Linked DNA regions of Homo sapiens. The main gene of each other region encodes a partner of the protein of the gene in region 3 in a complex. Each region holds a gene or a part of one and is shown on either strand. Other genes may lie near its edges. The genes, in order: RANBP2, NUP188, NUP160 and NUP85.

Evidence for each region.
Region 1: NUP160 (region 3) and RANBP2 share a complex: the UniProt entries of both Homo sapiens proteins name them as parts of the nuclear pore complex.
Region 2: NUP160 (region 3) and NUP188 share a complex: the UniProt entries of both Homo sapiens proteins name them as parts of the nuclear pore complex.
Region 4: NUP160 (region 3) and NUP85 share a complex: the UniProt entries of both Homo sapiens proteins name them as parts of the nuclear pore complex.

The regions. Positions count from the first base shown.
Region 1 is NC_000002.12:108,764,476-108,771,501, reverse strand, and holds part of RANBP2 (E3 SUMO-protein ligase RanBP2), read right to left. Parts: coding exon 3,114-7,026; intron 2,243-3,113; coding exon of another isoform or gene 2,165-2,242; intron 1-2,164. UniProt on the Homo sapiens protein: E3 SUMO-protein ligase which facilitates SUMO1 and SUMO2 conjugation by UBE2I. Involved in transport factor (Ran-GTP, karyopherin)-mediated protein import via the F-G repeat-containing domain which acts as a docking site for substrates.
Region 2 is NC_000009.12:128,950,673-128,957,698, forward strand, and holds part of NUP188 (nucleoporin NUP188), read left to right. Parts: intron 1-2,100; coding exon 2,101-2,174; intron 2,175-5,677; coding exon 5,678-5,762; intron 5,763-6,279; coding exon 6,280-6,360; intron 6,361-7,026. UniProt on the Homo sapiens protein: Component of the nuclear pore complex (NPC), a complex required for the trafficking across the nuclear envelope. Required for proper protein transport into the nucleus.
Region 3 is NC_000011.10:47,782,347-47,789,372, reverse strand, and holds part of NUP160 (nuclear pore complex protein Nup160), read left to right. Parts: intron 1-761; coding exon 762-872; intron 873-1,067; coding exon 1,068-1,191; intron 1,192-2,818; coding exon 2,819-2,920; intron 2,921-4,309; coding exon 4,310-4,451; intron 4,452-6,174; coding exon 6,175-6,300; intron 6,301-7,026. UniProt on the Homo sapiens protein: Functions as a component of the nuclear pore complex (NPC). Involved in poly(A)+ RNA transport.
Region 4 is NC_000017.11:75,208,677-75,215,702, reverse strand, and holds part of NUP85 (nuclear pore complex protein Nup85), read right to left. Parts: intron 5,881-7,026; coding exon 5,718-5,880; intron 3,712-5,717; coding exon 3,641-3,711; intron 2,628-3,640; coding exon 2,584-2,627; intron 1-2,583. UniProt on the Homo sapiens protein: Essential component of the nuclear pore complex (NPC) that seems to be required for NPC assembly and maintenance. As part of the NPC Nup107-160 subcomplex plays a role in RNA export and in tethering NUP96/Nup98 and NUP153 to the nucleus.

The DNA.
Region 1 (7,026 bases), on a different chromosome or scaffold from region 3:
TAAGTGAACACAGAATCTATTTAAAACCAAAGAAAACAAAAAAAAATTTGTGTTTACTTAATAGTCATTGAAAAGAATTACTATAAATTTCTAGAATTTATAAAGGTTAAAAATTTTAAAGTGTTGCCTAACTATACTTAGCATACAATAGTTTACCAAAATATCCATGCATTTGCAGCAATTGAAAAAAATCTTAAAACATAGGCAAGTATTACTATACATATGAAACTAATCCAAAGCCAACTGTGATTAGTTTCTGTAAGGAAAGTTAACAATTGCCAAGAATGGAAGGTGACTAGAGTTGCATCTAGTTTGCCTATGTTCAAGCATGATACTAAGTAAAATTAAATAACAACTGTGACTCTATAGGTAGCTAACACTATAAAATCTAAGACCATTCATATGGCTAAAAACAACCCATCCCCAGCCACCATCAATGCAAAGGGCAAAAAATTAGAAAGAGAAAAAACTTCTATATGCAACCTGTTCTGAACTTCTGGCTAAAGGAGTTTAATAAAGCAAGCCAGTCATGAAGCATGCCATGTATACCAACTAGTGATAGGGAAACATTCTGAGAGCTATGGTGTCCAATATGGTAGCCTAGCCACATTCTATTAAAACCTCACAAGGTGGCTAGTCCAAATCAAGACGTGCTAACAGTAAGTGTAAACACACACACTGGATTTTGAAGACTTGGTGAAAAACAATAATGTAAAATATCATTAATTTTTATATTAATTAGAAGTTAAAATGATATTTTGGACATAAGTTAAATCAAATCTATCAATAAAGTTACTTTCATCTGTTTCCCTTTTTAACTGTTTCTTTTTATTCTTTTTAATATGGCTACTAGAAAATTTATTTATTTATTTATTTATTTGAGATGCAGTCTTGCTTTGTCACCCAGAGCTGGAGTGCAGTGATGTGATCACAGTTCACTAAAGCCTGGAACTTGTGGGCTCAAGTGATCCCTCTGCCTCAGCCTCCCAAGTAACTGGGATTATAGGCACAAGCCATTGCACCAAATGACAATTTTAAATTACATACACAGGTTATATTTTATTTCTACTGGATGACACTGCTCTGCAGAACCAGTGCCCTTCCTTTTACAATGTTAAATTTGTCCCTCTCCTTCATTATAAACAAAAACTTAGTATCATTTTCTAGCTAGGAGAAATAACAGTACACCGTAAGATACAGATTCTTGTTCCACTTCTGCTATTACTCAGTAAAGACACCTTGGGTAAATCAGATAGCCTCTCTTGGCCTCAGTTTACTCATGTCTAAAGTCTTCATTTCTAAGGTCCCTTGGGACAATGACATTATCAGATTCAAAACAAAATAAGGCTCTATGTTCTACAGTAGTATATAGGCACATTCATTCTTAGGTCAGGGATTCCTAACCTAGAGCTCACAGAAACTGTACGCAAGTATACATCCACTTTTAAGTTAACACTTTTCACATTTCTCAAAGACCGTATCTTTAAAAATAAAAGATTAAGAGCTACCTTAGCTAGTAATAAAACTGGTATACTTAAAAAAAAAAATCAGAGATTGCTACTTTATCATTGTACTTGTTTGGCATGGCTAAGATGTGTTACTGGTCACTAAGGGTGAGATTTCACTTCCCTAACCTGTTCTTGAAGGCCTTCAACAGATCCCACTTCTTGTTCCACTCTAGTAGCCACACTTCTAAAATTGATCGGTGCAACATATATAATATGCAAGCTGTAGAATGCTGGCTGTTAAAAACGGGGTCCATTTTCAAATACAACATTTTTCTAAACCATGCACAAAAGAACAGCCCTACAGGGACACTCTTCCATATTGTATACATGCCGTTGCCACTACATTTGAATACTGGCAGACGTTAGTGGCTAAACATAAACATTAGATAAAACATAGGTCTTCATTGAGCAGACCTGAAATAGCAGAGCAATGAAGTACATTACAAATCAGCATCCCAGTACATTTTAAAAAACAAACCAACAAGGGTGTCATGCCACCAGTCAAAAGGTACTTTGCTTAAACTGGCATTCTTTAACATGCATGTTGTAGTGGTAAGTACTTCATTTCATACAGCCACAGTTATTAATACTTTGCTAAGGGCTACCCAGCTGCTAAAAACTGCTGTTATCTCATACTGAGAATGCTAGTTCTATACCTTTGCTCTCAGGCTGTGAGGAAGGGGTGCTAGTCCAAAAGGCCATGGGATTAGATTTAAAAAGGCTAAAATTAAATCCTAGAAAATAAAGAATATTTCGTTTTTTAACATTTTAGGAAACAAAATGAATATGCTTTTAAAACATAAAAAGCCAGAATCCCTCAATTTATACCACCAATCTGATTGTCTTACATATTCATTTATCCCTGTAGTTTCATTCTTTGCTCATTTAATACATGAGCAAGACTGACATACAACATATAAAATGAGAACATCTCAATATCACGTTGTTTTTTTTTTTTTGGAGACAAAGTCTCAGTCACTCAGTCAGGCTGGAGTGCAGTGGCATGATTTCAGCTCACTGCTACCTCCATCTCCTGTGCTCAAGTGATCCTCCTGCCTCAGCCTCCTAAGTAGCTGCTAATTATAGGCACGCACCACGACGCCCGGCTCATTTTTGTATTTTCAGTAGAAACAGGGTTTCACCATGCTGGCCAGGCTGGTCTCGAACTCTTGAGCTCAAGTGATCTGCCCACCTCAACCTCCCAAAGTGCTGGCATTCTAGGAGTGAGCCACCGTGCCCAGCCTCAATATCATGTTTTCTGAGTGACAAAAGAAACTGAACAAATGAAAATGAACACTTTAAAAAAAGACTCACGTTAATGTGCATGATTCAAGCATGAGTCCGTATACCGTACCGAGTTCTTTTGCTCTGCCCTAGCATGATAAAAGTATCTTCCAGTTACTGAAATGTCTTAAACTAAGTTCTCTTGCTCTTTGAAACCTCACCGTGAACTTATTAAGGGAGAAAAAAAATTGCTCAAATATTTTGGGGGTGTTCACAAAGCATCATTTATATCCCAACATTAGTATCCTACAAAGAGTCTGCATCAAGCTAAACATTAAAAGAAAGAAAAATTGTGCTTAACTTTAACAACAAAGTACTTACCCTTTTCTGGTGTTTTAAATGTGTAGTTGATTGAAGATTCTTCCGTTGGAAAGGAAGCAAAGAGATTTTTGACTTTGCTATCTGAAGACTGTTCGATATCAGAGTTCTTTGACAGTTCACATTTTTTAGGTTCCACTTTGCTTTCAGATCCACTCTGGGCTACTGAACTAGTTTCACTATTGTTACTTTTCAAAGGTGCATTAAAACTAAATCCAAACAAAGACCCAGTGGCTGAACTGTTGCCGAATGCAAATGGTTTTGATTTTTCACTACTAAAAATGCTTTTAACAGACTCTGAACCAAATACAAACTTTGGAGGAGAAACCACTGCTTTTGGTGTTGTTTCAGATGTGCTAGACACTTCAACTTCTGAAGTTGCATCTGCTACATCATCACCCTGAATAACATCTGTCCTCTCTCTTGTGGTTTCTTCTAATACAGCTACAGCAATTTTGCCACATGGTGACTCTCTGGGAGTGCTTGACCGAGAAACATGAGGTGTTATCAAAGAATCTTTTTCCTGGGCTGTTTTTGCTTCATCAAAAATTTTCTTAAACGAGTCTGCAACATCCTGTAGTTTAAAACGAACAGCTAAATGCTCTACTTTTCTTTCTCCATCTGCAAAATCACATGCAGTCCACAACCATACTCTTTCTGTCCCTTTCATATTTTGCAAAGTCATGTCTGGAGTTATTCTGTGATTGGCACAAAGTTTTAATACTTGGTCCCTTCTCATCACTATACGAACTTGCTTATTATCATAATTCTGTAAAATCTTTATATCACCAATGCCCCTTTCTTTCCATTGACCAACATCTTTATCATATCTGTAGAGTTTTGCCCTGTGACTAAAAACAACTTGTTCATTTTCCTCACCACTGGATACTTCAACTAGATCAGGTAAAGGAACAACAGGTTCAAAGTACTGTCCATCTCTCTCTTCTTCTTGAGTAACATCAGATTCTTCATCAGTGCCAACTGAAGTCCCACTCTGATTCAACTTGGCAGGAGACTTAGATGGACTCAAAGCAGATTTAAAACTGAAGTTAAATCCTGTTGTTGACTCACCAAAACGGAAAAGATTTTTTCTCACAGGGCTACTTGCCAATGGAGAAGCATGTACTGAGCTACTACTGACACTATCATCCAAAGCATCTTCCCTTAAATCATAGTTATCCCATTCTAATGTGGGCCCAGTGTTTTCAGGATTGGGTTTTATTGTTGTGTCTGAGGCACCGGCCGCACCTGTACCTGAACCCTTATTTTCTTCCTCAGTGACTTTTGTTTGATCATTTGTCAAAAATGTTTTGAAATCTTTCAGTCCACTCTTCATTTCTTCAGCTCTCTGTATTAACTTGGCAGCTCTGCCAGTATCTACAAGTTTATGGGGAGTTTGAAGTGGTATGTCTAACAGAAGCCGCTGGCATTCCTCAAATTTCTGCTTGAATTCTTCAGCCAGCTCTGGTGTTTTAAATTTTGCTGCCAACTGCTCTAGTTTGGCATCACCATCAGAGAAATCACTGGCTAACCACATCCATGCTCTATCTGATCCAGAGAGAGGCTTCAGGTTCATCGTAGTCGTTATCCAATGATTAGCACACACTTTTAGTACTTGTTCTCTTCGCATCAGCATTCTTAGTTTGCCATTGACCTCGTTTTTGAGAATTTTTAAGTTCCCCAAGCCCCTTTCTTTCCACTGACTTACCTCAGCATCAAATCTAAATAGTTTTACCCGCTGTGAATACAGAACTTTTTCATCTTCTTCTCCTGTTACAAGTTCTACTTTTTCGGGCATTTGAACTACTGGTTCAAAATGGATGTCATCGCTGTCCTCAGTCTTATAGGCATCATCATCTTTCTCAAAGTCACCGGAAGTGTTTGCTTTATTGGCCATTTTACCGTATTGTGATGAGAATAATTTTTCTCCAGCACCTGAAAATCCCTTGAAATTGGGGTCTTTTTTGCCAAACTGAAATCCTTCTCCTGAAGTTGATTTTGCAAGATCTGCAAATGTAAAAGTGCTACTTGTTTGGCCAAAAATCACACCACGGCCATTCTTCTGGCCACTAATATCCTGAGCCTGGAAGCCAGTACCATTTTCAAGAGGCTTTTCACTTTTCTTTTCTTGATTTCCTGGTTCCGAAATGCCAAATTTAAATCCATCAGCAGACACAGGGATGGAAAATCCTTCTTTGGTTGACTTAAATTCTGTATTAGAAGAACCCTGAAACATAAATGAAGGTGAATTTTCTTGATCCACATGCCCAAATTTGAATCCTTGCTCTGTATTGCCAAACTTAGAAGCTTTTTCTGAGAAATTACTTTTAAATCCTGTTCCCACCTGACTTCCAGAAGAGTCATGCAACTTCATTTCTGAGCCCAGTGTGAAAGCTGAAGGAGCTTCTGCAATAGGTTTATGAGTTGGTTTAGAGGCATCACAAGCCACACATTTTAAGGAAGAACTCTCATTTTGTACACAGCAAACACTACAATCCCACTGTCCTTTCCTGATGAACATTCCTTCAAATCCACTCTTTGGAGCCTTGCTTATCTCCGAAGAGGCAGGTGTTGAAATTGCAGTTGTTTGATTTTGTTTACTTGGACACTGACAAGCAATACATTTGGTAGCACTGGCTTCATTTCTTACTAAGCACACACTGCAATCCCACTGTCCTTCCTTCTTAGTGAACATTCCCTCAAATCCGCTCTTTGGAGCCTTGCTTGTCTCTGAAGAGGCAGGTGTTGAAACTGCAGAAGTAGTTTGATTTTGTTTACCTGGATTCTGACAAGCAATACATTTGGTAGCACTGGCTTCATTTCTTACTAAGCACACACTGCAATCCCACTGTCCCTCCTTCTTAGTGAACATTCCCTCAAATCCGCTCTTTGGAGCCTTGCTTGTCTCTGAAGAGGCAGGTGTTGAAACTGCAGAAGTAGTTTGATTTTGTTTACCTGGATTCTGACAAGCAATACATTTGGTAGCACTGGCTTCATTTCTTACTAAGCACACACTGCAATCCCACTGTCCCTCCTTCTTAGTGAACATTCCCTCAAATCCGCTCTTTGGAGCCTTGCTTGTCTCTGAAGTACCAAACTTAAAAGAGGCAGGAGCTGGAACAGAAGTAGATGGACTTGGTTTATCCGGATTCTGACAAGCAACACATCTTGTAGCATTTGCTTCATTTCGCACTAAGCATGAACTGCAATCCCACTGTCCTTCCTTCTTAGCAAACATGTCTTCAAATCCACTTTTTAGAGTTTTACTTGTCTCTGAAGTACCAAACTTAAAAGAGGCAGGTGTTGGAATAGAAGTAGCAGGTAGACTCTGTTTTCTCGGATTCTGACAAGCAGCACATTTTGTAGAGCTCCCCTCATTTTGTACCAAACATGCACTGCAATCCCACTGTCCTTCCTTTGTAGAAAAAACAGATCTGAAATCACTGTTAATAGGTTTAGGAAGATCTCCCTGGCCAAATTTAAATGAAGCTTGATGAACAAATGAAGATCCACTTTTGTTAGCAGATTTTGTATTCTGACACGCAATGCACCTAGATACAGTAGGTTCATTTCTTACTAAACAAATACTACAATCCCAGTGACCTTCTTTCTTTGGAGTCACCAATGCAAATCGATCTTGAACATTCTCTGGGCTGGTTTTAGGAGTAAAAACAGTTTCAGCTAATGGTGGGCCAACGAGCTCTTTATTGCTTGGGTTTAGATTTTGGCATGATACACATTTCTTAGCAGTTGAAGCATTCTTTAATGAGCAGCTGTTACAATGCCACCAAGACCCTTCTTTCTTTGCAACCTGAAATTCAAAATTCAGGTTTCCAGCATCAGATTTGCAAATATCCTTGTTATCATGACTTGTGGGTTCTTTTACAATTCTGACAGCCTGATTTGACGCCATGGC
Region 2 (7,026 bases), on a different chromosome or scaffold from region 3:
TCTACAAAAAATTTTTTAAAAAATTAGCCAGGCATGGTGGTGCATGTCTGTAGTCCCAGCTACTTAGGAGTCCAAGGTGGGAGGATTGCTTGATCCTGGGAGGTTGAGGCTGCAGTGAACTCTAGCCTGGGAGACACATCGAGACCCCAGCTCAAAAAAGCAAAAAGCTTTATAAACATTACGCATTCCCTACTTCTTTGCTGAAATGAGACTACCTAGCCTAGCTGCTGAAGTCTTTTAAATCTACCTTTGTATTTCATTGATTCCTTTTATGAAAAGATACCTGTGTTCATTGCTTGGCTGCTGAGAGTAGGGGTGCAAATACCATTCTTCTACCTCAACCTAAGAAAGATTCTTGGCCAGGCATGGTGGCTCACGCCTGTAATCCCAGCACTTTGGGAGGCCGAGGCGGGCGGATCACCTGAGGTCAGGAGTTCGTGACCAGCCTCAACATGGAGAAACCCCGTCTCTACTAAAAATACAAAATTAGCCCGGTGTGGTGGTGCATGCCTGTAATCCCAGCTACTCGGGAGGCTGAGGCAGGAGATTCGCTTGAACCCGGAAGTGGAGGTTGCAGTGAGTCGAGATCGCGCAACTGTACTCCAGCCTGGGTGACAAAGCGAGACTCCATCTCAAAAAAAAAAAAAAAAAAAAGTCAGGCTTGGTGGCATATGCTTGTATTAGTAGTTCCAGCTACTCAGGAGGCTGTGGTGGAAAGATCGCTTAAGCTCAGGATATCAAGCCTGCAGTGAGCCATGATTGCATCACTGCACTCCAGCCTGGGTGACAGAACAGGACCCTGTCTCAAAAAACAACAAAGAAAACTTCACCACAACATCATTTATATTATTAAATAATTACAGTCAGCTTAAGTATATCAAACATTAGAGGAATGGTAAATGAATTATGATCTACCAACTTGATACAAGTATTATGCAGCAACTTGAAAGTATGTTTATCAAGACTTTCATAATAAGGTTAAGTCATTATGTTATAATGTTAAGCAAAGAAAAGAAGGTTACAGAATTCTGTATTCAAAATGATTTCAACTCTGGGGAAAAATGCATATTAAAAACACTCAAAGGAATGTGTAATACTTAGTGTGATTCTGGAATCTGATTTTTTTTTTTTTTTTTTGAGACGGAGTTTCGTGCTTGTTGTCCTGGCTAGAGTGCATTGGTGCAATCTCGGCTCACCACAACCTCTGCCTCCCAGGTTCAAGTGATTCTCCTGCCTCAGCCTCCCGAGTAGCTGGGATTACAGGCATACACCACCACGCCCAGCTAATTTTGTATTTTTTAGTAGAGACAGGGTTTCTCCATGTTGGTCAGGCTGGTCTCCAACTCCCAACCCTAGGGGATCCGCCCGCTTCGGCCTCCCAAAGTGCTAGGATTACAGGCCTGAGCCACCATGCCTGGCCGAGTCTGATTATTAATAAAACTGCATTTGGGCCGGGCGCAGTGGCTCACACCTGTAATCCCTGCACTTTGCTGACATGGGCAGATCACGAGTTCAGGAGTTCAAGACCAGCTTGGACAATATGGTGAAACCCCATCTCTACTAAAAATACAAAAAAAACTGACTGGCATGGTGGCGTGCGCCTGTAGTCCCATCTGCTCAGGAGGCTGAGGTAGGAGAATTGCTTGAACCCAGGAGGCGGAGGTTGCAGTGAGCCAAGATTGCGCCACTGCACTCCATCCTGGGTAACAGAGTGAGACTCCGTCTCAAAAAAAAAAAAAAAAAAGAAAGCACAAAAAACTGCATTTGCGGTCGGGTGCCTTGGCTCACGCCTGTAATCCCAGCACTTTGGGAGGCCAAGGCAGGCAGATCACTTGAGGTGGGGAGTTCGAGATCAGCCTAGCCAACATGGTGAAACTCCATCTCTACTAAAAATACAATAATTAGCTGGGTGTGGTGGCTGGCACCTGTAATTCCAGCTACTCGGGAGGCTGAGGCTCGAGAATCACTTGAACCTGGGAGGCGGAGGTTGCAGTCAGCCAAGTTGGTGCCACTGCACTCCAGCCTGGGTGATAGAGTGAGACTCTGTCTCAAAAAAAAAAAAAAATACTGCATTTGTATAATTACCTTGTTCTTTTCCAGAGTCAGATTGAGGCAGAACTGAATAAACATTGGCGGCGATTGTTAGAGGGGCTTTCTTACTACAAACCTCCCAGGTATGGCAGTTCCGGGTGTCTGGTTAAAGTAATTGTCCTAAGGAAGCTGACATGGATAAAACCATCCTTCTATGTGCTTTGATGATATTGTAGGGTTATGTATACCAGAGATAATACAATTTAGTTTACCAGTGGAAAACAGTAGGGTACATTTGTTTTTTTGTTGACCGAAAGAAAAGGAAATTCCTTCTAGAAATACAGTATTGTAGAATATAATTATGACCTATGTGTGGGGATGAGAATTTATTAAACATTCAACGAATTTTCTAATATTTATTCAGAGTCCACAGTGTCTGTGTGAGTACTAATTGGTGGGAGATAGCAGTGAAGGATGATGCTAACAACTGACACTTGTGTAGTGTTAACTATGTAACAATTAATACTCTAAGCACCTGACTTATCAAAAGTTATTTAATCCCCACAACACCCCTTTGAGATAGTTACTACTTTTATTCTTTGGGTGAATATATAGATCTTTTTATTGGGTAGTGGAAAACATAGTAATAAAATATAAAGTAGTTGCAAATAAAGAGAATGCAGCTTGTAGGGCTGGGCTTATTTGATCTTGATTCCTAGTCCAGATCTCATTCTATTATGCGTTATAGTCTAAGTCACCCTCATTTCCCTTCTACTTTTGTACTGCTTTTGAATGTATTACATCTTTACCTTCCATTTTCATTCTCTTAGGTTAACGATGAACTTTTCCTTGTTATTCATCTGTCTGTTAATTCTTCCCCTGTAATTACCTTAAAGTAAATCCCAGATACCTTGTTATTTTATCTGCAAATACTTGACTATGTATCTAAAATACATGGACTTTTTAAAAAGATAATCTCTATATTATCACATTTAGGTACCCTTATCATTGTTTCCATTTTACCAGTGGGGAAACTGAGGCACAAAGAGGTTAAGCAACTTGTCATGGTCACACAGCTACTAAGTGATAGAACCAGGATTTGACCCTGGTGGTCTCATTCCAGTGTCTGTTCTTTTTTTTTTTTTGAGATGGGGTTTTGCTCTGTCGCCCAGACTGGAGTGCAGTGTCACATCTCAGCTTACTGCAACCTCCACCTCCCGGGTTCAAGTGATTCGCTTGCCTTGGCCTCCCGAGTGGCTGGGATTACAGGTGCCCGCCACCACGCCCAGCTAATTTTTGTATTTTTAGTAGAGATGGGGTTTCACCATGTTGGCCAGGCTGGCCTTGAACTCCTGATCTCAAGTGATCTGCTCACCTCGGCCTCCCAAAGTGCTGAGATTACAGGCGTGAGCCGTCATACCCAGCCTATTGTTTTCTTTACTATCTTTTTTCTGTTCCAGGATCCAACCTAGTTGTCAAGTGCCTGTAGTCTCCTCTTAGCTGTGACAATGTCTTAGTCTTTTTTTTTTGAGATGGAGTCTCGCTTTGTGGCCCAGGCTGGAGTGCAGTGGCACGATCTCGGCTCACTGCAAGCTCTGCCTCCCGGGTTCACGCCATTCTCCTGCCTCAGCCTCCCGAGTAGCTGGGACTACAGGCGCCCGCTGTGACAATGTCTTAGTCTTTTTTTTTTTTTTTTTTTGAGATGGAGTCTCGCTCTGTGGCCCAGGCTGGAGTGCAGTGGCACGATCTCGGCTCACTGCAAGCTCTGCCTCCCGGGTTCACGCCATTCTCCTGCCTCAGCCTCCCGAGTAGCAGGGACTACAGGCGCCCGCCACCACGCCTGGCTAATTTTTTGTATTTTTAGTAGAGACAGGGTTTCACTGTGTTCGCCAGGATGGTCTCAATCTCCTGACCTCATGATCCGCCCGCCTCGGCCTCCCAAAGTGCTGGGATTACAGGCGTGAGCCACCGCGGCCGGTGACAATGTCGACAATGTCTTAGTCTTACCTTGATTTTCATGACCTTGAACAAGTTTGAGGACTGGTCAGTTATTTTGTAGTATGCCCCCAATTTGGGTTTGTCTGATGTTTTCCTTATTATTAGACTGGGGTTGTGAGTTTTTGGGAAAAATACACAGAGGTGAGGTGCTCTTCTTTTTTTTTTTTTTGAGATGGAGTTTCGCTCTTGTTGCCCATGCTCGCGTGCAATGGTGCGATTTCAGCTCACTGCAACCTTTGCCTCCTGGGTTCAAGCAATTCTGTCTCAGCCTCCCGAGTAGCTGGGACTACAGGTGCATGCCACCATGCCTGGCTAATTTTTGTATTTTTAGTAGAGACAGGGTTTCACCATATTGGTCAGGCTGGTCTTGAACTCCTGACCTCAGGTGATCCGCCCGCCTCAGCCTCCCAAAGTGCTGGGATTACAGGCGTGAGCCACCACGCCTGGCCAAGCTACCCTTCTTACCACATCATAGCAGAGAGTACATGCTGTCCACATGAAATCACTGGTAATGTTAATCTTGGTCACTCAGTTAAGGAGGCATTTGCCAAGTTTCTCCTCTGTAAAGTTACTTTTTTCTCTTTTCCTATTTTATTTTTTGGAAGTGAGTACTAAATATAGCCATGTCCAGCTAATTTTTTTCACTTTTGGTGGAGATGAGGGTCTCACTTTGTTGTCTAGGCTGGTCTCAAACTCCTGGCCTCAAGCTACACTCCTGCCTTGGCCTCCCAAAGTGCTGGGATTACAGGCATGAGCCATTGTTCTGGCCCCTCCCTATCCTATTTATTTATTCATTAGTTTATATCAGTATAGACTCAAATATATTTATTTTATTTATCTTATACTTTGTTTATACCTTGTTTCAGCTTTGGCTATTGGGCATTCTTTTAGGTTGGCCTCTGTCCTTTGGGCGTGTCCTTCCTTTTTTCTTTTTTTCTTTTCTTTTTTTTCTATTATGTCATCTCCTACCGAAAGGACTTTGGTTTCTTAAGCCCTTTTGTACTTCTTTTCACTATAAGATGCTTCAAGATTTTCTTGTATTTTCCTTGCCCTGACTCTAGAATCAACCAATTCTCCAAGGAATCCTGTTATTAGAGAATGGTATTATAAAGCAGGATCTGGGTGCTGCATGTACCTCCTGCTGTTGGAGTATTATAAATTCTAGGCCTTCTCGGTGGACAGAGCTATTACAGATAATATATTAATATATGTATGTATGCCACAGACCTGGTTTTAAATTTTAGCAACTGTTTATGAGCTGTGGGATTTTTGGTAAGTTATTTACCCTAAGTGCTGGCAATTCCATTTGTAAAAGGAGAATAGTAATATTTGCCTTTTAGGGCAGTAGTAAGGATCAAAAATAATGTAACTTAATGTGTTTACAAATAACATTGTTATAACTGTAATTTAACCACTTTTTTTTTGTTTTGTTTTGTTAGGCATAACCAGTTCTGCGTTATGAAGTTTGTAGAGGTGAATGGGTGTGTGTGTGTGTGTGTGTGTGTGTGTGCGTGTGTGTGTTTGTGTGTGTGTTTATAGGCATCTGAAGGGCAGAAAATAGTCTGTAGGAAAAATATTTTAAAATATTTTTATTTTAAACTCAGTGGGCTATTGAGAATGAAGAAATGATTCACTGTTCTTTTTGTAGTCCAAGTTCAGCTGAAAAAGTGAAAGCTAATAAAGATGTAGCTTCACCATTGAAGGAACTGGGTTTAAGAATCAGCAAGTTTTTGGTGAGTAAAAATTAGCACTCGCTCAATTTATTACTTGCAGTGTGGATGTGCGTGGTTATATTGCTAGTGATAGTGAAAATTCAGTTTCTTTTTGTTTTGGGGATTAAATTGTTTTATAAATACCCAGGTTGCAACTCTTCTCCCTAAAAGTTACAAGTCAAAGTTGCCTGATCCATTCACTGCATATCATAGGGTTTTCTTCACCAGACATGTGGTGGTCTTTAAGGTGACTAAGTTTGTCATTTTGGAAGCTCACATCATGCCTACTGCTGTATTAATGTGCTTAGTGAATAAGCATCGTTGTTTCTGGCATGTACATTTAATTGTAATAAAAATTGTATGTCAGTGACTGGCTCTTGTCTTCTATTAGAGTCAGAATTGTTATGTTTTATGAATCTTTGAGAAGCATTTTTGTTTATTCAAGTCCTGTGTTCATTGTAGAAGACAAATCTTTAAATTCTCTGCATCCTGTGTGCGATTTCTGAGCTGTTCCTTACTTAAAATCTCTGTGTTTCAGGGTCTTGATGAAGAACAGAGTGTGCAGTTACTCCAGTGTTACCTGCAAGAGGACTACAGGGGTACTCGGGACTCAGTAAAGGTTTGTGGTTTATGTCAGCTCCTTTCTTCTGCCTTTATCCTTTTTCCCTGTTGGTTTTAGATAATGTAGGATTTTGGCACCAATTCTTTTATCGGTGGTAGGTGATCAGGTACCGTCATCTTCAGGGAAGACCTACTAAAGGCTTTAAAAAAAACATGACCTGGGTGCAATGGCTTGTGCCTGTACTCCCAGCTTCTTGGGAGGCTGAGGCAGGAGGATCACTTGAGTCCAGGAGTTTGAGGCTGCAGTGAACTGTGATCGCACTACTGCACTCCAGCCTAGGCAAAAGAGTGAGACCCTATCTCTTTAAAAAGTAAAGAATATATATGCATATAAGCTGAGATCTGTCTTCATACTTGGAGGAGTGGAGAGGTCAAAGACTGACATGTTAATCATAGAATCTTGGGCTATTAGAGGTGATAAGGATTTGGTAGAGTTTCTTTTTTTTTTGAGATGGAGTTTCGCTCTGTCTCCCAGGCTGGAGTGCAATGGCGTGATCTTGGCTCACTGGAAGCTCTGTCTCCCGGGTTCACGCCATTCTCCTGCCTCAGCCTCCCAAGTAGCTGGGACTATAGGCGCCTGCCACCACGCCCGGCTAATTTTTTGTGTTTTTAGTAGAGACAGGATTTCACCGTGTTAGCCAGGATGGTCTCAATCTCCTGACCT
Region 3 (7,026 bases):
GGTCATATTTCTTTCTTATTGATAGAGATGACAGACAGTATTTCACAATTATAATAGTTAAATGAGGCCAGGTGCAGTGGCTCATGCCTTGTAATCCCAGCATTTTGGGAGGCCAAGGCAGGAGGGTCATTTGAGCTCAGGAGTTCAAGACCAGCCTGGGCAACATAGCAAGACCCTGTAGAAAAAAAATTTTTTAGGCTGGGCACAGTGGCTGATGCCTGTAATCCCAGCACGTTGGGAGGCTGAGGTGGCTGGATCACCTGAGGTCAGGAGTTTAAGAACAGCCTGGCCAACATGGTAAAACCCCGTGTCTACTAAAAATACAAAAATTAGCTGGGCATGGTGGTGCACGCCTGTAATCCCAGCTACTCGGAAGGCTGAGGCAGGAGAATCACATGAACCCAAGAGGCGGAGGTTGCAGTGAGCCGAGATCATGCCACTGCACTCCAGCCTGGGTGACAGATTGAGATTTGTTTCCTTAAAAAAAAAAAAAAAAGTTTAAAGAGTTAAATGAAATTACATGTAGTACCTTGTAAGCACCTCCTCAACTGCAGTCGGTTAAAATACTTTGATTTGACATGGGATATTGCATAATTTGTTTAAGTTAGCATTTATTTAGTGCCCTATTTTCTCCTTCCTTCATGCATTTGGAAATTAGATTGAATGTTACTTAATGTTCAGTGGAAATTGACAGGTTGCGTTAATCTGATGGATACTTCTTTGTATTTTGGGAGTTCAAAATATTTTTCTTTGATGTATAGCAAATCGACAAATTGAAATCCTGGAACTGGAAGATCTGGAGAAAGAGTGTTCCTTGGCTCGCATCCGCCTCACTTTGGCTCAGCATGATCCATCAGCGGTTGCAGTTGCTGGTAGGAATTCAAGAGTTTAAAGCCTCTGACTTGTCAGCACCACGAGCACATTTTAGGTCCAGGCAGTGTATGTAGCATGGTAGATGGGTATAAAGCCTGGGTTATTACTCAGAGATACTCATCAACAAAACAAAATCTTTGGTTTCATTTGTGTATACCTTGGCTACACGAAATAATCTTTTTCCATTTTCACAGGAAGTTCATCAGCAGAGGAAATGGTCACTCTCTTGGTTCAGGCGGGCCTCTTTGACACTGCCATATCACTCTGTCAGACTTTTAAGCTTCCCTTAACGCCAGTCTTTGAAGGGCTTGCCTTCAAGTATGTATAAAATTATTTTTTTATAGTCTTTTCTAATGCAAATATATTATCCTCTTGCTCAGTGTGAAACAGTCGTCATAAGCCAAGTAGCCCATATATCATTTATGATTTGAAGAAGTGTTTTGTTTAATCCATCCAAGCATTCTTAAAAAGAATTTCAGGCTGAGCGCAGTGGCTCACGCCTGTAATCCCAGCACTTTGGGAGGCCGAGGCGGGCGGATCACGAGGCCAGGAGATCAAGACCATCCTGGCTAACAAGGTGAAACCCCGTCTCTACTAAAAATAATACAAAAAAAATTAGTCGGGCGTGGTGGCGGGCGCCTGTAGTCCCAGCTACTCGGGAGGCTGAGGCAGGAGAATGGCGTGAACCTGGGAGGCAGAGCTTGCAATGAGCCGAGATCGCGCCACTGCACTCCAGCCTGGGCGACAGAGCGAGACTCTGTCTCAAAAAAAAGAAGAAGAATTTCTTGGCCAGGCACAGTGGCTCACATCTGTAATCCTACTAATACTTTGGGAGGCTGTGGCGGGTGGATCGCTTGGGACCAGCCTGGCCAACATGGTGAAACCCTGTCTCTACTAAAAATACAAAAATGAGGGTGTGGCACACAACAGTAATTTCAGCCTCTCAGGAGGCTTAGGCACAAGAATCTCTTGAACTTGGGAGGCAGAGGTTGCAGTGAGCTGAGATCGCGCCTCTGCACTCGAGCCTGGGCAACAAAGCAAGACTCTGTTTCAAAAAAAAAAAAAAAAAAAGTTTGTGAATTAGAAATAATTTTGAACTTTCAGAATTTTTCAGCCAGGTGCAGTGGCTTACGCCTGTAATGCCATCACGTTGGGAGGCCAAGGTGGGCAGATCACTTGAGGTCAGGAGTTCAAGACCTGCCCGGCCAACATGACGAAACCCCATCTCTACTAAAAATACAAAAGTTAGCCAGGAGAGGTGGCGTGTGCCTGTAATCCCAGCTACTTGGGTGGCTAAGGCAGGAGAATCGCTTGAGCCTGGGAGACGGAGGTTACAATGAGTTGAGATTGCGCCACTGCACTCCAGCCTGGGCAACAGAGCGAGACTCCATCTTAATTTAAAAAAAAAAAGAGGCCAGGTGCGGTGGCTCATACCTGTTATCCCAGGACTTTGGGAGACCTAGGCGGGCGGATCATGAGGTCAGGAGATCAAGACCATCCTGGCTAACACAGTGAAACCCCGTCTCTACTAAATATACAAAAAATTAGCCAGGCATGGTGGCATGGGCCTGTAGTCCCAGCTACTCAGGAGGCTGAGACAGGAGAATCACTTGAACCTGGGAGGCAGAGGTTGCAGTGAGCTGAGATTGCACCACTGCACTGCAGCCTGGGTGACAGAGCAAGACTCCATCTCAAAAAAAAAGAAAAGAAAAAAGAATTTTTCATCATTAATTTTATCTTGGAAGTAAATTGTCTCTTAATGCTTACTCATGTTCTTGTAGGTATCCAGTTGTGTAACTTGAGGAAGAGATGAGCCAATATTCCAGTAGTGAATTCAGCAAAAGACTAGAGATGAAGTTGTCATCTATCTCTCTAGTTTTAGTATCAAATTAAAGTGGTACGTTTCAGCGTTCAGTTTTCAAGTGTGGAACCATTTTCATTCCAGATGCATCAAATTGCAATTTGGAGGAGAGGCAGCACAAGCAGAAGCCTGGGCCTGGCTAGCAGCCAATCAGCTCTCATCTGTCATCACTACTAAGGAGTCTAGGTACAACCCTGGTGTTCAACCCTGGGTAGTTTTGCCTTTCTAAAAGCTGTAACTGTCTTTCTCTGACTAAATTGTCCTACATAGATCATTTCACTTTTTTCTTTCTTTTTGGCTAAGTTTTTATAGGGGCTGGAAAGTTTATAATTAAGGTGACATCATGTCATTTATTGTCCAAACTAGGATGTCTTTGCCTATGAAATGTCTCCTTCTCCATATCCCCCTCCTCAAAGACTTACTGTTTCATATCAGGAAAGGGTACTCTTACAGGCAAAAATCTGTATTTACTTGTTTCGGAGTGTTATCCTCCTTTTTTCCCCCATTTCTTCCACTGAGCAGTCACTGCATGGTTTCATCACAGTGTCCTCTTATATCTTGTCTCCAGCTGCTGTTCAGCAGTCTGTCACCCATCAGCCCCCATCATCCACTATACCTTCTTCAGATCTCCTCTGGTTCGTATACTTCCCCAGTGCACCCACTTTGTGTCCACGTAAATATACTTCAGCTTCTTCAGAAACCTTCTCTAACATTCCTAACCCTCAGTAAACTTCCCTTTCTGAACTGCATTTGCACTTGGTATTATACAGCTTAGCACTTTAGAGTGATAGCACTTTAGAATTTGGAAGTTCTCTGACATTAGTTTTCAACCCCTAAATTAGCACATCAGAATAACTTATTAAAATACAGATTATGAGAAATCACCCTAGTCTTCTAAGTTAGAACTTCTGCATGATTCTAATGCTTGATCAGGTTTGAGAACCAGTGTTCTGAACCAGTTTCTTGTTTTAGAAATGCAGAAACAAAGGAGTTAAATGAATTATGCATTAATAGCCAAACAAATAACGTTCATTTACTAAATATGTTTGTTTACTAAATACTAAATACGTTAGTGGGAGAGGAATATACGAACCCAAGACATCTAGTTTCTAGTGCTATCCCCATAAGTCACATTAGCCCAAATAATATTTGTTCCCATTTAGCTATATTATTGATTCAGTTGTTAATTTCTAAAGTTTTCCTTGTAAGGCTGGGCATGGTGACTCCTGCCTGTAATCCCAACACTTAGGGAGGACAAGGTCAGAGGATCACTTTAGCTCTGGAGTTTAATACCAGCGTGGACAACATAGCAAGTCCTTGTCTCTACAAAACATAAACAAAATTAGCTGGGCATAGTGGTGCATGCCTGTATTCCCAGCTATTTAGGAAGCTGAAATGGGAGAATCTGGGGCTGAGGCTGCAGTGAGCTGAGATCACACCACTCCACTCTAGCCTGGGTGACAGAGCAAGACCCTGTCTGAAAAAAAAGTTTTCCTTGTAAATACATGCTTTGAATGGTACTCTAAATAGCTATTAAGAATCTGAAACTCATTAGTCATTTTTGTTTTTTTCAAGTGCTACAGATGAAGCATGGCGACTATTATCCACTTACCTGGAGAGGTACAAAGTCCAGAATAACTTGTATCACCACTGTGTAATCAACAAGCTCTTGTCTCATGGAGTGCCTCTGCCTAATTGGCTTATAAACAGTTACAAGGTAAACGGATTATAACTTGTACAGAGTAAGAACCCACTCTTTATCATTCTGGATAACTTCATGAGATGATTAAAAATATGGACTGATTGCAGTGGCTCATACCTGTCATGCCCGCACATTGGTAGGCCAACAGGGGAGGATGGCTTGAGCCCAGGAGTTTGAGACCAGCTTGGGCAACACAGGGAGACCCCATCTCTATTTAAATTTAAAAATATATAAAGAAAAAGAAAAAGATGGGGTGATAACTTATGGGAACATATTGACTTACGTACTTTGGGAAGCTTTTCATCATAGCTAAAACCATAAGAACAATTCAAATTCATTTCCACAGTACTACTGTGTATTTAGATTTGAAGTTTCATAGGTTAGTAATTAGGTTAATGACTCCTATTATATTCACTGAACAATGAGTTTATATTTAGAACAATGAGCATATGCATGACACAGGATTTACTCTTCATACCTCAAAAAAGTCACAGGAGTCGGTGGAGTACTTTTCAAATAATATAACACTATGGCTGGTCTGAGTGCCGTGTTGTTTACAACTAATTGAGCACAACCAGTTTCCGATTGGTTCCTTCTCCACTCCCACTGTTTCACCTATTAAAAATCAAAAACGGGTTCTTAGACTGTCTGCATCAGAATTATTCAGATGGCAGTCTTCTTCAAAATACAGATTCCTCATCCTAGACTTACAGAATCAGATTATCTCAGGCTAGGAGCCAGAAATCTACATTTTAAGAAGCTCCTAATTTGATTTTGATGCATGCTAAAGTTTGAGAACTTCTGCATCTGAACCACCGTTAGTAGGATAAGGAAAGAGAAAATCTAAAGCTTAAAATCAGGAAAGTTTTTTTTGGTTTTTTTTGTTTTGTTTTGTTTTGTTTTTTTTGTTTTTGTTTTTGTTTTTTTTTTAAGGTAGAAAGGAGGCCGGGCACGGTGACTCACGCCTGTAAACCCAGCGCTTTGGGAGGCCAAGGCAGGCAGATCACCTGAGGTCAGGAATTCGAGACCAGCCTGGCCAACATGGTGAAACCCCATCTCCACTAAAAATACAAAAATTATCTGGATGTGATGGTGCGTGCCTGTAATCTCAGCTACTCTGGAGGCAGAGGTTACAGTGATCTGAGGTTGCACCACTGCCCCCAAGCCTGGGCGACAGAGCAAGACTCTGTCTCAAAAAAAATAAATAAATAGGAAAGTAGGGAAGCCAGCTAAGATGGTAAAGGTAAGATTGTGATCAAATGGGAATATAGAAAGCATGCTTAATTAATAGAGCTCTTCCAAATAGAGACTTCAGATTTAAAGCTGGTGATTCTTTGAACTTCTTTTGCATTTGTCATTCATATATTTCTTATTATGTGAATATATTGTCACTTTAGTGTTCAGGAAAAGTTTGTTGACTTTACAACTGTGGAAACTGAAGTGGAGAGAAGTTAAAATATGTCTTAGGTCATAAAACAGGGGAAGAAGGCTATTTAACAGATAAGGGCCTCCCAAACTGCCTAGAGGTAACGGCTCTTAGGGATTTAACTTTTTTTTTTTCCTAACTCCCCAGATTTGTTATCAGCTCTTATCCTAAGATACAGATGAGTAAACCAAGCCACTGGTTTAATTATATTGAGAAATACAAATGTTAGGGAATCAGCCACTCAACATTCTTTGGTCAGTACTCAAGTAGGAGGGAAATAGGTACATATTCTTAATCACTGACTTTTCACAGAAGGTTGATGCTGCTGAATTGCTTCGTTTATACTTAAACTATGACCTTTTAGAAGAAGCTGTGGATTTGGTGTCAGAATATGTGGATGCTGTATTGGGAAAAGGACATCAATACTTCGGAATTGAGGTAGGCATATACAAATGGTCCCCAATTTACAATGGTTTGACTTACGATTTTTCAACTTTACAGTGGTTTGAAAGTGATGAACATTTATGAGAAACCATACTTTAAAATACTGATGGCCGGGCACAGTGACTCATGCCTATAATCCCAGCACTTTGGGAGGCCGAGGCAGACAGATCACCTGAGGTCAGGAGTTCGAAACCAGTTTGGCCAACATGGCAAAGCCCCGTCTCTACTAAAAATACAGAAATTAGCCAGATGCAGTGGCACGTACCTGTAATCCCAGCTACTCAGGAGGCTGAGGCAGGAGAATCGCTTGAACCTGGGAGGCAGAGGTTGCAGTGAGCCGAGATCATGCCACTGCACTCCAGCCTGGGCAACAGAGCGAGACTCCATCTCAAAAATAAATAAATAAATAAATAATAAATAAATAAAATACTCATACAACCGTTCAGTTTTTCAGTTGCAGTACAGTATTCAATAAATTACACAAGATATTCAACAGTGTATTATAAAGTAGGCTTTCTGTTAGATGATTTTGCCCAACTTTATAGGTTAACGTTAAGTGTCCTGAGCATGGTTAAGTAGGCTAGGCTAAGCCGTGATGTTCATTAGGTTAGATGTATTATATGTATTTTCAACCTATGATATTTTCAACTGATAGTGGGTTTATTGGAAAACAAACCCACCATAAGTTGAGGAACATCGGTATAGGCGCATATATATATA
Region 4 (7,026 bases), on a different chromosome or scaffold from region 3:
TCTCAGAGCCAAGGGATAAAGCAGACTTTGACTCATATGACAGTCATTCCTTAACCCAAAGGTTACTGCAATCCTACTGGAGGATTTCCCACAGGGGAGCCAGCGTGAGGATGTTAGGTGGTGGGATGGAGACCAACACTATTTTGTTTTAGTGGTTGTGATTTTATTTTACTGTGCATTACAAAAATAACTTGGCCAGGTGCAGTGGCTCATTCCTGTAATCCCAGCACTTTGGGAGGCCAAGGCAGGTGGAATGCTTGAGTCTAGGAGTTTGAGACCAGCTTGAGCAACATGGCAAGATCCTGTCTCAACAAAAAATATAAAAATTGGCCAAGTGTAGTGACATATCCCCGCAGTCTCAGCTACTCAGGAGGCTGAGGTGGGAGCATCACTTGAGCCCAGGAAGTTGAGTCTGAGTGAGCCATAATCGTGCCACTATTCCAGCCTGGGCAAGAGCGAGACCTTGTCTCAAAATTTAAAAAAAGAAAAAATATAACTTGCATGTCACCAGTTATTATTTATTTATCTTTTGAGATGGAGTTTGGCTCTTGCTGCCCAAGCTAGAGTGCAGTGGCATAATCTTGGCTCACTGCAACTTCCGCCTCCCGGGTTCAAGTGATTCTCCTGCCTCAGCCTCCCCAGTAGCTGGGATTACAGGCGCCTGCCACCATGCCCAGCTAATTTTTTGTATTTTTAGTAGAGACGAGGTTTCACCTTGTTAGCCAGGAAGGTCTCGATCTCCTGACCTCGTGATACACCTGCCTCGGCCTCCCAAAGTGCTGGGATTACAGGCTTGAGCCACCGTGCCCTGCCAACACTCAGTTTTTGTTTTTTGTTTTTTTTTTTGAGACAGAGTCTCACTCTGTCAGTCAGGCTGGAGTGCAGTGGCATGATCTCGGCTCACTGCAACCTCTGCCTCCAGGGTTCAAGCAATTCTCCTGCCTCAGCCTCCCAAGTGGCTGGGATTACAGGCGCACACCACCACGCCTAGCTAAATATTGTATTTTTAGTAGAGATGGAGTTTCCGTGTTGGCCAGGCTAGTTTCGAACTCCTAACCTCAAGAGATCCACCCACCTCGGCCTCTCAAAGTGCTGGGATTACAGGCGTGAGCCACTGCGCCCAGCCTATCTTGATGAACTGATGCTTTAGCAAGGTGCTTCATTTGAGTAAAAAGAAGAGACAATATTTAGAAGAATATTCAGTAGATGACATGAAACACGTAGACAGAGCAAGAATTGTGAAGCTGGTATTCAAAGGACTGAAGTTTAGGGGAACAGTCTATTAACGGGAAAGCCCAATATAAGACCCCGAAATAAATCAGACCTGGACCTTGCCCTTAGGAATACGCAGGCTTCCCTTCCTCACCATCCTTCAGTCCACAGACACCATGATGACTTGTTCATAAGGGTACTTCAGAGACAGTGAATTACTACCTAGTCACTACTGACTTTGAAAAGTATCTAATATGAAGCATCTACTGAGGAAAAAGATACTGTAAGTCATCTTCCAGCTCCAAGTAAAGTAGAGCCACTTGCAACTCAGTAAAAATGTTGAGTTTAGCCGGGCGCAGTGGCTCACACTTGTAATCCCAGCACTTTGGGAGGCTGAGGCAGGCAGATCACGAGGTCAGGAGATCGAGAGCATCCTGGCTAACACGGTGAAACCCCCTCTCTACTAAAAATACAAAAAATTAGCCCAGCTACTCGGGAGGCTGAGGCAGGAGAATGGCATGAACCTGGGAGGCGGAGCTTGCAGTGAGCCGAGATCGCGCCACTGCATTCCAGCCTGGGCGACAGAGAGAGACTCCGTCTCAAAAAAAAAAAAAAAAAAAAAAAAAAACTTGAGTTTTGCCAGGTGTGGCAGCTCACACCTATAATCCCAGCACTTTGGGAGGCCAAGGCAGGAGGATCACTTGAGCCCAAGAGTTCGAGACCAGCTTTGACAACACAGAGAGACCCTGTCTTTCAAAAAAAAAATGTTGAGTTCAAGAAGTGAGGAGTGTTTATGAGACCGAGCAGTGATCTCACAAGATTACTTCTCCATTTCAGGTGACAACCCCTCAACACAATTTGGTCAGGACATATATGTTCCATAAGAACGGAACATTCAGGGCCAGCACGGTGGCTTACACCTGTAATCCCACCACTTTGGGAGGTCGAGGCGGGTGGATCACTTGAGGTCAAAAGTTCAAGACCAGCCTGGCCAACATGGTGAAACCCCATCTCTACTAAAAATGCAAAAAGTAGCTGGGCTTGGTGTGGCATGCACCTATAATCCCAGCTACTCGGGAGGCTGAGACAGGAGAAATGCTTGAACCCAGGGCACTCCAGCCTGGGTGACAGAGCAAGACTCCATCTCAAAAAAAAAAAAAAGGAACCGAACATTCACTCAAGTATTTAACAAGCACTTCCTTGTGAGCTACACCTTGAAGGGGGCAAGACAATCACTGTCACCCAAAGGAGCTGCCTATCTACCTGAAAAGAAGAGACTTCTGCCATAACAGGAACTGCAAAGCCACCCCAGGTGGGTGCCCAGGACACAGGACACAGTGGTGCTAAAACAATAAAGGTGACTCCCCTTACCTGGCTGCTGAACTGGCGGCCATTGGCTGGATCTTTAGCAGCAACTAACAAAACACAAAACATTTTAAGTGAGCAATGGAACTCTTAGGCTTATTGTCATAGCTGAATATTCCAGGGTCTATGGCTTGAGCCTCTGTTTATTTTAATGAGAAAAATTAAAAGACATTATAATCTCTTTTAATTATGGATTTTTTTGTTGCTGTTAATGCTTCATATCCCTTCAATTCTCAAACCAAAAGCCCTCAAGTTACAAAATGGCACTTTCAACTGCAACACAGCTACCATAAAGGTCTCTGACATGCCAAGCACAGTGGCTCACACCTGTAATCCCGACACTTTGGGAGGCTGATGTCAAAGGACTGCTTGAGCCCAGGAGTTCAAGAACAGCCTGGAAAAATTAGGGAGACCCCGTTTCTACAAATAATTTAAAAATTATCAGAACAAAGTTCTCTGAGGAAAACTGGACAAAAACTGTTTAAATTAGCTGGGCATGGTAGTACACACCTGCAGTCCCAACTACTTGGAAGGATGAGGTAGGAAGATCACTTGAGCCCAGGCGGTGAGCTCATGACTGCAGTGAGCCATAATGTTTCTTTGCACTCCAGCCTGGGCAACCTTGTCTCAAAAAAAAAAAAAAAAAAAAAAAAAAACTCCAGGCACAGTGGCTGACTCCTGTAATCCCAGAACTCTGGGCTTGGTGGTGTACAACTGTAGTCCCAGCTACTCAGGAGGCTGAGGCTAGAGAATCGTTTGAACCTGGGAGGTGGAGGTTGCAGTGACCTGAGTTCATGCCACAGCACCTCAGCCTGGGCGACAGAGCAACACTCGGTCTCAAAAAAAAAAAAAAAAAAAAAAAAAAAAAAAAAAAAAAACAACAACAAAAAAAAAAACCTCTAAATGATTACCAAAAAAGTAAGGATTATGAAAGATGGAAAAATAAGTTTTGGACTGGAATATCAATCAAACTTTACCTCACAGTATTTATGCATAGATAAATACTCAAAATACCCACACACACACACACACACACACGCGCGCACGCGCACACAGTCCTTACTTGCAACCTGGTGCATTTCCTCCATACATGCTCTGATGACTGATCGGTAGTTTTTACTCACTCGAACCAATCTACAAAAAATGAAATAACACACAAGATGAGCCTGGAACATCTTGTAGTGCCACAAAGGAAGGAAACACTCAAATAAATGCAGAAATTTGCTGAAAGAAAGAGGAGAGCCGTTGTGAAGGAGCTCCTAACCTTCTGAAGCTGGAACAACTTGGACAACAAAATAAAACGCCACAAAACAACCCATGGGCTAAAGTTAATATCCACAAACCCATACTGCCATTAATTGTTGCAGATGAAATCTACTGGTCAGACCTTGTCTCAAAAAAATAAAAAAGATACATAAATGTATTTACTGGCCAGGCCCGGTGGCTCAGGCGTGTAATCCCAGCACTTTGGGAGGTGAAAGTGGGCAGATCACCTGAGGTCAGGTGTTTGAGACCAGCCTGGCCAACCTGGTGAAACCCTGTCTCTACTAAAAATACAAAAATCCCAGCTACTCAGGAGGCTGAGGCAGGAGAATCTCTTGAACCCGGCAGGCGGAGGTTGCAGTGAGCCAAGATCATGCCATTGCACTCCAGCCTGGGCGACAGAGTGAGACTCCATCTGAAAAAAAAAAAAAAAGAATAAGACAGGGTCCCCTGCCAGCAAGGAATTACAGGACTTTTGACATGTTTTTTTCCTAGAAGTGACAATAGATTTCTCAAACTCACCAATATTCTCCACTAGAGTCCCTTAAATCCAATAATCAGGCCAGGTGCAGTGGCTCACTCCTATAATCCCAGCACTTTGGGACGCTGAGGTGGGCAGATCACTTGAGGTCAGGAGTTCAAGACCAGCCCAGCCAAAATGATGAAACCCCATCTCTACTAAAAATGCAAAAATTAGCCAGGCGTGGTGGCACGCACCTGTAATCCCAGCTACTCAGGAGGCTGAGGCAGGAGAATGGCTTCAACCCAGGAGGCAGAGGCTGCAGTGGGCCAAGATTGCGCCACTGCACTCCAGCCTGGGTGACAGAGTGAAACTCTGTCTCAAAAAAAAAAAAAAAAACAGGGCCAGGCACAGTGGCTCACGTCTGTAATCCCAGCACTTTGGGAGGCCGAAGCAGGTGGATCACGAGGTCACGAGATCGAGACCATCCTGGCTAACACGGTGAAACCCCGTCTCTACTAAAAATACAAAAAATTAGCCGGATGTGGTGGCAGGCGCCTGTAGTCCCAGCTACTCGGGAGGCTGAGGCAGGAGAATGGCGTGAATCCAGGAGGCAGAGCTTACAGTGAGCGGAGAACGCGTCACTGCACTCCAGCCTGGGTGACAGAGCGAAACTCTGCCTCGAAAAAAAACAGAAAAACAACCAATAATCACTCTTGCACACACTCACACAGAAGCTGACCTGAGTCTTGTCCAGAATGATTCATTTGTGAAAAGCTTATCAAAGAAGTAACATACCAACACTGCCCATTCCCTAGCCATCCATGTGAAGGGACGCTGACAAAAATCTAACACAGGAGTTCTTAAACTTCAGTGTGCTGGAGATTTTAAGATCCAACCACGGAGATTTTGATTTTGATGATCTGAGGTGGGTCCCAAAAGTCTACAATTAACAAGTACCACTCTGATAATGATGAAGTTATGAACTACAATTCAAGAAAATCCTAATCTATAAATAGTACGAGAGTTTTCTGGTCTGTTGTCAAATAACGTCTGAACCATAATTTTTTAGAGACAAAACTGTTAGGTTTATATTAATTTTCAAATCTCCCAACAATGTGACCTCATTCAACGACTCTCACATGCTTGTGTGGCCTAAATTTTCTTCTTTAGAGGCTAAGTAAAATATGAATATAAATAAAGCTTGTCAAGCCAGCCCATCAATAGCATTTGCATATTCCCGCTAAGTCTTCCCATCACTGCTAATGTACACTGTCCAGTACTCATGCCTCAACTAGAACCAGGAGTCTCTTATTTCTTTACGCAACCCATAAAACACACAAAAAGACAACAATGTACTTCATTTGGCTTTCCACAGTGTAGTGTGGGCTTCAACACCAAACAGCAACCAACTTACTGAGATTTTCTGGATTTTCCAGTCAACTCTTCGTCAATTCTCTGGAGGCCCAGAAAGATTCCATGGGATTCATTGAAGAGTTTTCTCAAGATTTGAGAGTAAACATCTACATCCTTACGGATGATATAGATAAAGGGGCAACTTGGCACCATCTCTGATTTTTCTGAAACCAAACAGAAAAAAAAAATTTAACATCTATTATGATCATCTCCAAAAGTGAATCTACTCTAAAAAAATTTTCTGTGGCCGGGCATGGTGGCTCTTGCCTATAATCCCAGCACTTTGGGAGGCCAAGGCAGGCAGATCACGAGGTCAGGAATTCGAGACCAGGCTGGCCAACATAGCAAAACCCTGTCTCTACTAAAAATACAAAAATTAGCTGGGCGTGGTGGCACATGCCTTCATTCCCAGCTACTCAGGAGACTGAGGCAGGAGAATTGCTTCAAACCGGGAGGCGGAGGTGGCAGTGAGCCGAGATCACACCACTGCATTCCAGCCTGGACAGAGCGAGACTCCGTCTCAAAAAAAAAAAAAAAAAAAGAAAGCAAATCAAATGTCAAGATTCCAGTTTTATCCTTCTACTGGAAGGAGACTGTATCACTGTATCAGGAAAAGAAAAAGATTCACATCCTATCCAATAGCTGATGGAACTCAGGAAAATCAAGCCAAGGACAAGCTATGTCACTCTCCAGCTCCATCTGTGCCTTGGATGCTACGGCTCAGCTCAGCCTACAGAACTATTATTCAGCTGAATCCATGCTGTGGACACAAAAGTGACGGCCAAGCATCTGCAAGGTTCACAATAAGGGAGCTACTGATAGGAATTTGGTCACTTTGGACAAAGAAAAAGGGATAAAAAGCTTGACATTTTAAATATGAAGAAAATTTTTCATGAAAACTATTAATTTTTTTCCGGGATTCAACATCTTCAAGATCTCAAAAATCAATGAAAATCTAAAATAGCTAACATTTCAAAAATAAAAATGCCAAAATGCAACAGGATCGCTTGAGGCCAGGAGTGCGAGACCAGCCTAGGCAACAAAATGAGACTCCCATCTCTACAAAGAAAAAAAAATTAGCTGGGCGTGGTGGCATGGTGACCTGTAGTCTCAGCTACTAGGAAGACTGAGGCAGAGGATCACTTGAGCCCAAGAGGTAGAGGCTGCAGTGAGCCATGATCACACTGTACTCCAGCCCAGGTGACACAACAAAACCCTGTTGTATCTTGAAAACAAAATAGAGAAAATTAAAATAGTACAAAATAAATTCAACTGTTTCAGTCCACAACTAGTAAAATCTGAGGTAATAA